Homo sapiens: one gene and its partners. The protein of the gene in region 3 purifies or fractionates together with the protein of the main gene of each other region. This does not show direct contact. Each region holds a gene or a part of one and is shown on either strand. Other genes may lie near its edges.

Region 1 (3,530 bases), on a different chromosome or scaffold from region 3:
CTATGCAATAGTTAATAAGCTACATTTTTTTTTTGTTTGTTTGTTTTTGTTGAGACAGTCTTGCTCTGTCACCTAGGCTGGAGTGCAGTGGTGTGATCTCAGCTCACTATAACCTCTGCCACCCGGGTTCAAGTGATTGTCTTGCCTCAGCCTCCTTAGTAACTGGGATTACAGGCGCCCACCACCACGCCCGGCTATTTTCTTTTTTAAATTTTTTATTTTTAGTAGAGACGGGGTTGGTCTCAACTAAATGTTGGCCAGGCTGGTCTCAAACTCCTGGCCTCAAGTGATCCACCCTCCTAGGCCTCCCAAAGTGCTGGGATTACAGGAGTGAGCCACTGCACCTGGTCTTTTTATTTGTATTTGAAAGCAGCCTGAGTGGATATTTTAACACCAGAATTTCCAAAAGTATGTAGCACAGGTTGTTACAACAAAATGACAGCACTTAGGAATAACTGCTAATCTTAAGTATGTTTTTTATAAGTAAAATAACCCATTATTTGGTATAAAGATTTCACACTGATAACATTTTTGAGTTATCAGGCAAAAATAGAGAGTATTGAGAAAAGAGACCCTCTCAATTTTGTTTAATTTGAAAATATTAACATTTAAAAATCACACTGGGGTTTTTCAGGTGGTGGGACTTTTTCTTCATTTAAGTGGAGACTACCCAGTCTTTATGTTAATGGTTGATAAATCATCCTTTCAGTATCATTATCATTAGGCCAATGTGTGCAGGCCTCCCACTGCAGAGATTGACTACTTTTTTCTGGCATCTAATTCTATGCGTGGGAATACATTTTCCATTAATGTGAGCTCACTCAATTTTACCTGGAAGCATCCATATTCCTAATGAAATTGGAATTTTTCCAAAAGATGAGGCCTGGTCTTGGATGACTACATTTTCACTTGAAACATTTATTTTGGGTAATTATAACACTGAACTCGACAAGTAAATGTTACACTTGGAAAGAACTTTTTTAGCTTTTCCAACCAAAGGCAGATGTATTGCAATAAAATAACTGTCTTAAACGGTCCTCTACTATTTAGTTCTTAGTTATTTGCTGTTTATTCTAAATATATGTGCATATTGATAAATCATAGAAATAACTTCCACTAGTGATCTTACCTTTAGCCATTTCATAGTTAGGTCAGAATATCCATTTCCAAGTAATACTTGACCACTATGTTTCTACCATAGGTAAATGATAAGCTTCTAAAATTATATTCACATATATCCAAATCTCCAGGAGTCACAATCTGTTGCTCTATAAGTTTTTTCAAAACATTCTTATTTACATTTTTTCTTGGTTGTCTAAGTGACATCTAGGTGGTAGTAGAAATTATTCACTGATACTTTATCTACAAAATGGCTCAATCTTCTAAACTCATAGTTCCTTTAATATTACCTTTATCTCTTAATAATCAGTATGGAGTCTACTCTGCTATAAATTCTCATGTGACATTCCATTTTGCAATTAGTATAACTCTTAAAGGTACTGAAAAGTGCAGTATTACAATAAGTTGTCAAAGGCATCTCATTACTATGAAGTCCATGAAGTTTAAAAATTTTAAATTTATCTCTTATTTTCAAACTAGCTACCATCTTTAAAAATTCAGCAAAGTGGTAACTGGAATATTAATAGCTATAATTATTTCTTAGGTCCATGCTTTTCAGAAATAATGCTTAAATGTTTACTTACTTCTTCATAATATAGCACAATATAATCATTTAGAAATTATGTAAGTTTGATATTAACAAATATCATTAACTTACATTTTTATTTATCTTGCTTGAAAAAGTTAATTCAAAATATTAATTTATTTATTCATGAAAACAACAATTGATAATTTATCCTATTCTAAATATGAATGATAAAATCTGAGTAAGTTGCAGTCCTGGCTTCCATTTCATGAATACACAGGAAACAAAAGCTGAAATGAAAACTTTTCCCCTAAATATTTAAATCACATGTTTGATTTCATTTTTAAATGGTCTGGGTATAAGCAAAAATTTGTACATTATTTTATTTCTCTAAATTTGACCTCTTTCCATAAATTTTCTTTGCCCCACTTCCAAATGCGGCGAGAATTCATGCTTCTCATTGAATTCACAGATATCTTTAGAATGTTTTATTGCTTAGTGTTAAATATGTTGAGTAAATACTGGCTTATGTTCCTAGGTTACTTTTCTCCCTTCACTGTTTAGTTAAATAATCAATTCTTTCAAGTAACAACTTTTAAAAAAACTGGAATCTAGAAATTCATCAGGAGTGGAGATCATCAAAAACGTAATTACTTTATATTGTTAACATTTTAGTATATACAGGTAAATTCAAATACATAAAGAGTGTGGAAAAATTAAACCTAATATATTCTTAATTGATGTGATGTGAGTGTAACAAATATACAAATCACATTCCCACAATAGGAAACAAATTTCCTGTTTGAATTTCTCTGTAAAGGACCGACTTCTGAAATCTTTATGTAAGTTACAGTCAAGACAGTTGATGAGGCTATAGTTCTTGAAAAAGGGGCATGGGAGGGAATTACAGACATTCTACAAATTTAAAAAACCATAAATGTACATATTTTAAGAAATTAACAGTTGCTGTAATAACATAAAAGTAGATATATGTATGTTTTAATATATACAGCACACACACACTTTTAAATACTTCAACATCTCAATGTTTTGATGATCATAAATCTGAAAGGATCTGATTTTTCTATAAAATGTAACTTGGGTGGTAAAGAGGTTAATGGTAAGTTGTCTTGAATCAGATTGAAATCCCATCGTACCAAGAGATAATATCGTTTTACTTAACCTCTATGTGTTTATAAAAAGCGAATAATATTAAAACTTATTTCAGAGGATTGTGATAATTTAACGGGATAATTCCATTAAGACAAATAGAAAAGTGGCTGTCACATGGGAAATATTTCCAATAGATGTCCACTGTTAAAACAGGAATCACAATATTTTAGTGTATGTCATGAATTAGCACAATTGATAGTGAATTAGTATAAAAGTTCTAAGGAAATATTTAGATAAAATATAAGGACTTTGAGGAGTGACCGAAGGATATTACAATTGAAACTAGAAATTTTGGGAAAGTTCAAACGACATACAAGGAAAAGAAGATACGTTTACATATTTAATACTTACACGTTTAGCCACATGATGTCGCTGTCCACCACAAGGTCTTTCTCCACAAAAGAAATAACAGCGTGCATTACGTATTCAGATACTGCTTTGCTTCATCCTCTCTAAAATTTAACACCGAGGAGTTTAAGAAATGAAGATAAGGAACTCGAATTATTTTTAAACTTTGGATCAATGTAAAGGCAATCTAATATTTGGAAAATACTTGCAATGTTGTTCTCCTGGCGAGAAGATCCTGGAGCCCAGTGCCTGCTGCTTTCTCTTCTGCTCCTCGCAGCCTCGGAGGTGGGGAGCGGCCAGCTCCACTACTCCGTCTCTGAGGAGGCCAAGCATGGCACCTTCGTGGGCCGCATCGCGCAGGACC
Region 2 (3,530 bases), on a different chromosome or scaffold from region 3:
GAGATTGCGCCATTGCACTCCAGCCTGGGCGGCAAGAGTGAGAGACTGTATGAAAAAAAAAAAAGAGAGAGAGAGAGAGACAGAGAGAGTTGATTTCCTTAAGGAAGGACAGACCTAAGGAAAAGGTTTTGTCCAGTGTTGCTTTTGCGCTTCTCTGGTGGACATTTAAATTTTAGACTCTCTTAAAAAAAAAAAAATTAATAGACTATTTTAGGGCCAGGCGCGGTGGCTCACGCCTGTAATCCCAGCACTTTGGGAGGCCGAGGCAGGTGGATCACAAGGTCAGGAGATTGAGACCATCCTGGACTACAGGTGTGTGCCCAGCTAATGTTTTGTATGTTTAATAGAGATGAGGTTTTGCCATGTTGCCCAGGCTGGTCTTGAACTCCTGGTCTCAAGCGATCCACTGGCCTCAGCCTCCCAAAGTGCTGGGATTGCAGGTGTTAGCCACTGCGCCCCGCCTACATTTTTCCTTTAGCATTCAAAACATTCTTTAAAATTAGAGAATATGTAAAATGTTTTTGTAAAAAAGCAAGTAATACAGGAAAATACAGCCTATCCTTCATTCTATTCCCTTCCCGGCAGATTTTCATGACATTAAGGATGATGTGGATGAAACGAATATTCTAAGTAAGTTCACAGTAACTTATCTGGCTGGTTCTGACAAGTCTTTCTTGATTTAAACTTATCACTATTGCTTTTGTAACACTGGCCAGTGTTTTTCATTCGTCCAGCAATAGGAAGAATATTTATCTTTATCCCTGTGCGACTATTTTAAATGCAAAGCCTCTGATGAACTGTAGACACTTTTCCAATGTAGTTAAAATGATACAAACACTTTGGCAGTTACTTAATTAAACATAAAGCTACCACACAACCCAACCATTCCACTGCTAGGTATGGAGAGGGGTTAGTGCTATCCCAAATAGTCCACAAGTTTGAATAATGCATTGTCAGTGGTTTTTGCCTGGGACATACATCAGAATCAGCTGGAAAGATTTTTCAAAATACATTCCAGATATGTAGAATTAGAATGCATAATGGTGAGCCCTGGCATACGTAGTCTAATAAAAGTTCCACAAATGAGGATTGTGCACACAAATGCCCTTTTAGTGCCATGGTTTCATATGTTCACCTTGGGGAAGCACAACCACTTCCCTGGCTTCAACCGACTTCTATGTTGGGAGAGGGCCTGAAAAAGGTGGTCACGGTGGCATAAAGAGGAGAGAATTCAAGACAGTTATGAGGTAGAATTCATAAGATTTACATATAGAAGACACTGATGATGGTTTTTATGAAAATTTTAAACCACTGAGAAAATTTTAAACCAGTTGAGAGATTAGAATTAGGTTGAATACAAAATTGTCAATATTCAACCAGTTATGACAAAAATGGTACTTCATATGCCAAAAATGGAATTTTCATACAAAAATAGCAATTTCATATACTTTAACCTAATATAAAACACTCATATGCACACTACCCAGATTCAGTAATTCTCAAGATTTTGCCTCTTTTTTTCTGTAATTGCTGAGTAACTTTAGAATAAATCTTAGACCTTAGGTCATTACATCCCTACATACTTGGCATATTATCTAAAAAATATTGCTACTTATATAACTGCAATTTCATTACCACACCTCACCAACAATAATTTCTTGTTAACATCTAATACCCAGTCCACATTCGTATCTCTCTGATTGTCTTTAAAAAATGTCTTTCTGCATTTTGGTTGACTGAATCAAGTTCCTAAAGCAGATGTACGTATTGTATTTGGTGGTTATGGGTTTTAAACCTTTTTCGATCCCTGAGCAGTCCTCCTGAAATATCCTCTTCTACTTTTTTCCCATGCCACTGGACCTATATTCATAACTTGAAGGGTTTTGTGAAGACAAAATGAGGTAATGAATATATAATGACCAGCACATGGCCTGATCCACAGACAGGCAAGCAGTTGCTCAGTGAATGTCAATTCTAGTCAATGACAAGAGACACCTTCAGCATATGTAATAGAAATGTTCATTTCAATAAAGTATTTGTAAAAAAGCATCTGAAAAATTACATATTTTTTGGACAGTGCAGAATATGTACAATAATTTATCTGTAAGTAAGCAATACCTACAGCAGAAGTAGAGAATCCGAGGATTTTGGAAGAAGAAATTGTCTTCAGGAATTTTGCTCTACCGCTAAGAGAGCAGAGGCTCCTCTGGGCCAAAAACATGCTATTAAATAAAAGAAAAATTGAGAAGAGGAATAAATATATGATGGGTACATCACTATCAGACACTTACAGCTAGCTGATGTATCATAAGCTTACGTAAAATCCAAGTAAACATTTTTGATAAGTGAGTTTGCTTTCTTTCAAGTTTTCTTTCTATGATATAATCTCTCATCACTGGAGGCATTCTAATAAATGTATTCTTCCTACACAAATTTATATTCACATCATTTTAAACTAGAGAGCTTTAAGAATATTCTTAATTAAAAAAATAAGGCTTTAATTTAGTCAAGAGCATTAAATTTCAGAAAGTGAAAGTTCCATTTCTAGCAGCTATAAAATCCAGAGTATTTCAATCTAGGAACTACTCAAATTTCAGAATCCTCTGGATAACAGTCACTAGTAAAAGCATAGTTTGTAACAGTAAATTAAAGTTGTTAGAAACAGTTATTTAAAAAGTTGTTTGAAAAGACGAATGATAGTAGGTCCTTGATAAATATAAAGAATATATGAGTGAATCTTAGGTTATTCTGAAGGTACTTCCTCCAACAATTCCCACAAGCCATTTTAGTGGATTCCAGTGGCATGATAGGCATGCATTCTGAATTGCTTCTCTACCTGTAAGTATAAAATTGATATCCGTCATGGGTAAATGGAGGAAGATCAAGGCAATGAAACTATTACAATACTGCCACTTAGAAGTGGAAAGAAAACCCAGCTTTCTAAAAACATTCAGGCAAATAGATATTTCTCATAAGGTTTTACTCTGAGAATGTTGTTCTCTTAAGTCTACTGTATAAGGCTGCTGTATCAGTGGATGGCATGTCGTCTAACAGTTATCAAACCTTAGAGAAAAAGAGACCTAATCTATGGAAACTAAATAGAGCTTCTATATAAAACGCTAACAAATCAAACCCAGTAGTATACAAGAAGGATAATACATCATGACCAAGGGGGGTTGGGTTTATATAAGAAACCTATTAATGTGATTCACCACATTAAGAGATTAAAGCAGAATTCAATCTTAAAAAAAGTTTCTATCTGTAGTCAAGTTATGGACTCTTGCTGGGCCTCAGTTTCTCCATTTTTCACAATAGGTGAATAAATTAATAAGGTTTGAGTTAAAGCAAGCAAGTAGCGGGAACCCTCTAACGACATAAAGATACAATGGAATTTGCTGATTATGGCGCAGCTGTCCCAAAAGACACAGCTGAAACTTTGGAAAATGGAAGAGAAAGGAAGACCTGGGTCAGTTGCCAGGAATTACATTGCATGATGGAGGTAATGTGCTAATAATAAAAGCAAGTAAGCT
Region 3 (3,530 bases):
GCCAGGGAGTTTTTCTCACGGCTGTGCATGTGATGATTCATCACCCTTAAAGAATTCCCGGCCGGGCATGGTGGGTCGTGCCTGGAATCCCAGCACTTTGGGAGGCCAAGATGGGTGGATCACTTGTCAGGAGTTCAAGACCAGCCTGGCCAATATGGTGAAACCCCATCTCTAACTAAAAATACAAAAATTAGCTGGGTGTGGTGGTACGTGCCTGTAATCCCAGCTACTTGGGAGGCCGAGGTGGGAGAATCGCTTGAACCTGGGAGGTCGAGGTTGCAGTGAGCCGAGACCGCACCACTGCACTCCAGCCTGGGCGACAGTGAGACTCTGTCTCAAAAAAAAAATAATAATAATTAGGCCAAGCATGCTGATGTGCTCCTGTAGTCCCAGCACTTTGGGAGGCTGAGGCCAGAGGCCAGAGGACCCCTTGAAGCCAGGAGTTCCAGGCTGTAGTGAGCCGTGGTTCTGCTACTGCTCTCCAGCCTGGGTGACAGAGCAAGACTCTGTCCACCCCCCACCCCCAACAAAAAGAATTTCACTATATAGATGTTTCTTGATTTTTCAAACTGGTCTGTTAGTTTGTGTTCAGTTTGTCACCTTTGTGAGAAAAAAAACACTCATAAGTTAGTGTGTACTTCCTACTTAATTTCTCCTGGGTCATCGTGAAGCACTCCCTGCCCTCCATGAGAACAGTATGTCACCCGCTCTCTTCCCTGTGCCAAGCCCATAAAGGGCTGTTGGCAAATATGTCGGACAAATAGACTCGCCTAAGAGGGCCTTTCTCTCCAAGCCCTCGCCAGCACAGGCTGTGTCACTTTCTTAGGTGGCACCTACCGTCTGTTGCACACTTGCCGCAGATGATTTGGCACAGGATGTCGCTTCAGAAAACCTTGTAGGAAGCTGTGAGGTCGTTACCGTCCCCATTTCACAGACAGGAAAGTGCAGGCCTTAGATGCACTGCCTGATACCCTGTGGCCCCCGCGTTCCTAGACAGATACACTGCCTGGTACACTGTACCCCCCCACCCCCGCTATCGTTTGCAGCTGGGGTTGAACCCTGCATTCATAGACAGGTTCCCCCTTGAGTGAGCCCCCCATCTGCTTAACTGAGGGCTTGTCCTGGTTATAAATGTCTGGGTGGGGGTGGGCACTGCTGGCTGCAGCTGTCAGGACTGGGAATGCTGAACCTGCACTGAGGGGAGTAGGCCCCAGAGATGCTCCCAAGACCCTGGAGACACAGGCCAGGTAGACACCTGTGTGTGTGTGTATATATATGTGTGTGTGTGTATATATATATATGTGTGTGTGTGTATATATATGTACATATATATATACACACACACACACATACATATAAAAGAGCCGGGCATTGTTTGTGTGTGTGTGTGTGTATATATGTATATATGTGTGTGTGTGTGTGTATATATATAGTGTGTATATATAGTGTGTATATAGTGTATATAGTGTGTGTATATATATATTGTGTGTATATATATCGTGTGGATATATATTGTGTGGATATATATATAGTGTATATATATTGTGGACATATGTATAGTGTGTATATATATTGTGGACATATATAGTGTATATATATTTTGGACATATATAGTGTATATATATTGTGGATATATATATAGTGTGTATATATATTGTGGATATATATATAGCGGGTATATGTAGTGGATATATATAGTATATATATATTGTGGATATACACACACACACAATAGCTGGGCATTGTAGTGCATGCTTGTAGTCCCAGTTACTCAGGAGGCTGAGGTAGAAGGATAACCTGAGCCCAGGGAGATTGAGGCTGCAGTGAGCCGTGATCAGTCGCTCCATTGCCCTCCAGCCTGGGCGACAGAGACCCTGTCTCCAAAAAAAAAAAAAAAAAATTGGCTGCAGCTCCAATTTGAGAAGCAAATTCTTGTGAGAGAAGGGTTTTTAAAGAAGAAACCCCATTCTCTCCACCTGAACTTAGGGTGGCCATCATCTCACTTGGCAATCCCTGCCTGGTCAGTAATCACATGAAACTGAATGAGAGTAGACAGGGTGTCTGGAAAAAGTGAATGCTAAAGCAGTACCTGTCACTGCCACTAGGATCCTGACTGAACCGGAATGGCCTCGGGGAGCAGCCTTTCAGGCTCCAGCAGTGGAAGGCGCTGCTGTGTCAGCGGTTACCAGACTGGCAGGACCCAGGACTGCTTTACACTCCTAAAAAGCAGGGAAGACCCCAAAGAGCTTTTGTTATATCTATTGATAGTCACCATGTTTGACATTTAAAAATGAGTCATTTAAATGCTGAAGTGCCTTCTATTTAAAATTGGAAACCAGCCGGGCACGGTGGCTCATGCCTGTAATCCTAGCACTTTGGGAGGCCAAGGTGGGCGGATCACCTGAGGTCAGGAGTTCAAGACCAGCCTGGCCAACATGGTGAAACCCTTTCTCTACTAAAGACACAAAAAAAATAACTCGGCATGGTGGCACACGCCTGTAATCCCAGCTACTCGGGAGGCTGAGGCAGGAGAATCCCTTGAACCCAGGAGGCGGAGGTTGCAGTGAGCTGAGATCGTGCCACTCCACTCCAGCCTAAGTGAGAGCGAGACTCCATCTCAAATAAATAAAGTAAAATTGTAAACCATTATATATTAACATAAGTAAACCATTTAGTGGAACCTGTTTTCAATGACGAAAACAATGAGAAAGATGGTTTTGTTTTCACAAATCTGTTTGGCTTAACTGACAGCTTCTGGATTCTCCTTCCGAATTCAAACTTAGTGTCTCCGTTCAGCTTCTGAAATGCTCTAGCATATACTCAGAGTGGCTGTGGAAACAGCATGGAATGTTGGTGTTGTGCAGACTGCTTTGATCCGGGGGCCTCCCAAAAGGACCCCTGGACCACGCTTTGAGAACCACTTCTCTAAGAGTTGTAAAATAGCTCTAAACACTTGGGGAAATTGATTACTTTTAGGAAGATAAGCTGTGTCTTTGAACAATTTTTAGTGGCTCAACCATGTGCTTGCCCCTTGGGGCAAGTGTGGAATCAATCTGATGCGCTGTCACCGGTAAAGCTGTTCCAGTACACACCTCTCCCTCAAAGTGCCCTACACAGCCCCTTGCTGAATCCTTTGCAGCAGTGAAAATCGGGGGTTGGGGGGAGGCAAGAGTAGGCTGTGCTTGGGGCCATGGAATTATGCAGGTCTCTAAGGGTGTGGACCGAGGAGAACATAAAGGAACAGTGATTTAAACCTGTAATAAACAGATGCCCTTGAGGGGAAGCAGCCCCCACAGTACCCTGCTGGGATGACCTCCCGCAGCGCACCCCACTCACATGGTACCCGGGGAGCTCACACTGCCACACTTGCGGCATGAGGTGGATTTCTTCATGGGGATAAGAACCTGTGCATTGTGGTCCTCACCAGGGCCCAAGTGGTAATCTTTTATTAAGAGCAACAGGAATCCTGGTATGTAGAATTGGGACCGTATCTTAAGTGTTTGAAACCATACTTTCTTTTTTACTGAGAC
Region 4 (2,593 bases), on a different chromosome or scaffold from region 3:
AGCAATATCCAACAGACATAGGCCCCCTACGGGACAGTGTGGGCCCCCAGATATAAGATGGATACCCCCCGCACCTGCAGTAAAGCATCCCAAAGCCAAATGCTCAATTGCATCCTGTCTGCAGCTGGGACTTTGGAGGGTAATGGCTGGGCAGACAGTAAAGTTGATCATCTGTTTTCTCGGGGTGGCAGACGCAGCCATGTCTTGGTATCACCACCCATGTGACAGCTACTCCTGCACAACTGGGACAAATGTCAGGGCCAGAGCCATGAAGGTGTGGTACCCCTTGATCAGCTTCTCCACGTCCTGGCCCCAGGTCTTGGCGGGGAGGGGGTCACATGAGTACAGAGGTCAAATATCTACCACCCTCCAGCCCTGAGCACCAGAAGCTCTGCAACCAACGTCCCCAGGAATGGCCTTCCCCTTGCTGCTCAGGTCATACTTCTGGAGGAAGAGAAAGCTCATTCCATATTTTCCCCACCACTCTACTCCGAAAGCAACACAGTTCTGGCCCAGTATCAAACTAGGGTTAGGTCCAAGAGAGCAGTCAAGCGGGTCGGGGGTGGGGGGGAGGGCGGAGGGCAGCAGGCATTTTCCCCCAAGGAAACCATGAAAGTCCCCAGGGCCTGCAGTCAAGTTTCTATCACCTTCCCCGTGAGAAGGACCTTAGTTCCATGGAGATGAAGTGGGTGAGGTTCAGGTAGAAGCCACAGGGGCAGGCATCCAGAATGAGGCCCCCTGAGGAACCCTGAGTGCTGACCAGTGCCGGCAGAAATCAGTTCCACCCTGTGGCCCTGACACTATATGTCAGGGTGACACCAACTGCAGCAGGCAGGAGCCACAGGAAGGAAGACGTCATCCGATGGAGCCTGACATCCCCAGGTTCCCGCCCTGGTGAGCAAGGTCTTCATTTGGCTTTGGTACATATGACCCTATACAGGGAACCTAGTGTGTATCACTCACCAGCCTCTTTCTGTATCTGGGGAAACCAAGGCAGTGAGGTGACTGCACTCACCTAGCAATAAAGTAGGCCTTTGGTGCACTTGCAGGCATGTCCTCCTCTGGGGCAGAGAGCAGGTTCCTTGCTGAAGGGCAGATGGTGGCAAACATCTCCCTCAACTGTTTCCCTGGGCCAGTCTTTAGGGAGCCTAGGGACAAGGGCCCACCCTCCCCCTTCCACGTGTGCCAAATCAGCACCTGAAGTGAGGCATTTCCAGCAAGCAACTCCACAGACCCGAGAAAGGAAGGGCTCTAGTGGAAGAGCTAGCATCTCACCACCCCAGGTCCCCTGGCCTGGTCCAGGGCAGCCAGCTGCATGTGACCATTCTGTTGCCAGCTCCCCACACATCCCTCCTGTCACCCAGGCTCCAAGACATTCGACCAACTAGACTGAAAATGCAGGCATCCAGCTTTGGGAGACCCTGTGTGTGCCACACCAGGGCTAAGCTCTCCCAGTGCCCTAGCAAGGTCTTTTTTTTTTTTTCTCTCCTTATTCTACTCTACAGTCTTTTGACAGTATTCCCAAACGAGGTTGACACAGCTCCAGTCCACACCAGCATACCAGGCTTCCTTCCCAGGGCAGTTTAGAGGAAGCTCCTTCTGGGCAAGGTCAGGCGGTCCTCCTTCCCTCTCTCCTTCCCCTTTGTCCCAGCCTCAACTGACTCTGGCTGTGGGAGGTGTGGAGGGTCCTTAGGCTTCCCTCCCCAACCTGGCCTCCACCAACACCCCTAACAGGAGGCCCGTGGAAGGCTCAGCCTCTCCTCCGCATCCCTCCTCCTTCCTGCCTATCGGAGGGAGCCAGGGTCCCCTAGGCTGACCCTGAATCCTCTTCCTCCCTTCATGGGAGGGGGGCAGGAATCCAGAGGAGGATGAAGCCAGCGGGACCACATGGCTTGGTGGCTTGGACAAACAAGCTCAGGGAGGAAATGAGGAGGCGGCGGCTGCAGAGGAATGCAACCCTGTTGGGCACAGACCATGCAATCTGGGGCTGGCCCTGGGGCCAGCTGGGTCCTGTCCTCCACCTGCTCAACCGTGCTTCCACCAACCAGAGGAAACCCATTTACTAGTTTTTCTAATAAATCAATAATGCTCCATGTTTCTCTCAGTTTCTTATTTAACTAGCCTCCTCTCCCTTTGAACTGAGCCTAAGAGGGCTGGCACCATGGAGACAGAGGGACAGCCAGATTCTCTAGCTTGTCCCTGGGAGCCTTATGGGACGACTGCAAGCACCCGGTTCCTGGGCTTCATCACAAACTCCAAGAAAAGCTTGCTCATTCATGCATTTGATCAACTTGAAGGCCTACTGTAGGGCAAAATCATTTCCAAGCAGTGATCAGTCCAGGCCCCTCCCCACAGAGCTCAGGACAGATCTCAGCACTCACTGGACCGCAGAATCATCAGAATCTCTAAGCCTGGGATTCACCTCCAGAGGGCAGTTTCTGTTGGTCTAGGGAGATGGAATGTAAGCACTGCGTTTCCAGAAGGCTCCCCAGATAATTCCAATGGGCAGCCAGTGAGAACCACCGACCTGGTGCAAGGTTCCCAGGCATACCTAGATGGCCGTGTAAGGACTGCCTGGGGAAGGGGTTAACTA

Evidence for each region. The genes of interacting proteins can lie anywhere in the genome.
Region 1: the proteins of DIDO1 (region 3) and PCDHA2 fractionate together in Homo sapiens (co-fractionation; one large-scale study listed by BioGRID). This does not show direct contact.
Region 2: the proteins of DIDO1 (region 3) and RBMXL1 purify together in Homo sapiens (affinity purification with mass spectrometry; one large-scale study listed by BioGRID and IntAct). This does not show direct contact.
Region 4: the proteins of DIDO1 (region 3) and SPTB purify together in Homo sapiens (affinity purification with mass spectrometry; one large-scale study listed by BioGRID and IntAct). This does not show direct contact.

The regions. Positions count from the first base shown.
Region 1 is NC_000005.10:140,797,822-140,801,351, forward strand, and holds part of PCDHA2 (protocadherin alpha-2 isoform 1 precursor), read left to right. Parts: intron 1-3,235; exon of another isoform or gene 3,236-3,376; coding exon of another isoform or gene 3,377-3,530. Other genes in the region: PCDHA3 (protocadherin alpha-3 isoform 1 precursor), read left to right, coding at 3,377-3,530. UniProt on the Homo sapiens protein: Potential calcium-dependent cell-adhesion protein. May be involved in the establishment and maintenance of specific neuronal connections in the brain.
Region 2 is NC_000001.11:88,986,130-88,989,659, forward strand, and holds part of RBMXL1 (RNA binding motif protein, X-linked-like-1), read right to left. Parts: intron 2,223-3,530; 5' UTR 2,222-2,222; coding exon of another isoform or gene 2,123-2,221; intron 1-2,122. Other genes in the region: KYAT3 (kynurenine--oxoglutarate transaminase 3), read right to left, coding at 2,123-2,221.
Region 3 is NC_000020.11:62,920,003-62,923,532, reverse strand, and holds part of DIDO1 (death-inducer obliterator 1), read left to right. Parts: intron 1-3,530. UniProt on the Homo sapiens protein: Putative transcription factor, weakly pro-apoptotic when overexpressed. Tumor suppressor. Required for early embryonic stem cell development.
Region 4 is NC_000014.9:64,745,783-64,748,375, reverse strand, and holds the end of SPTB (spectrin beta chain, erythrocytic), read left to right. Parts: 3' UTR 1-2,093; downstream 2,094-2,593.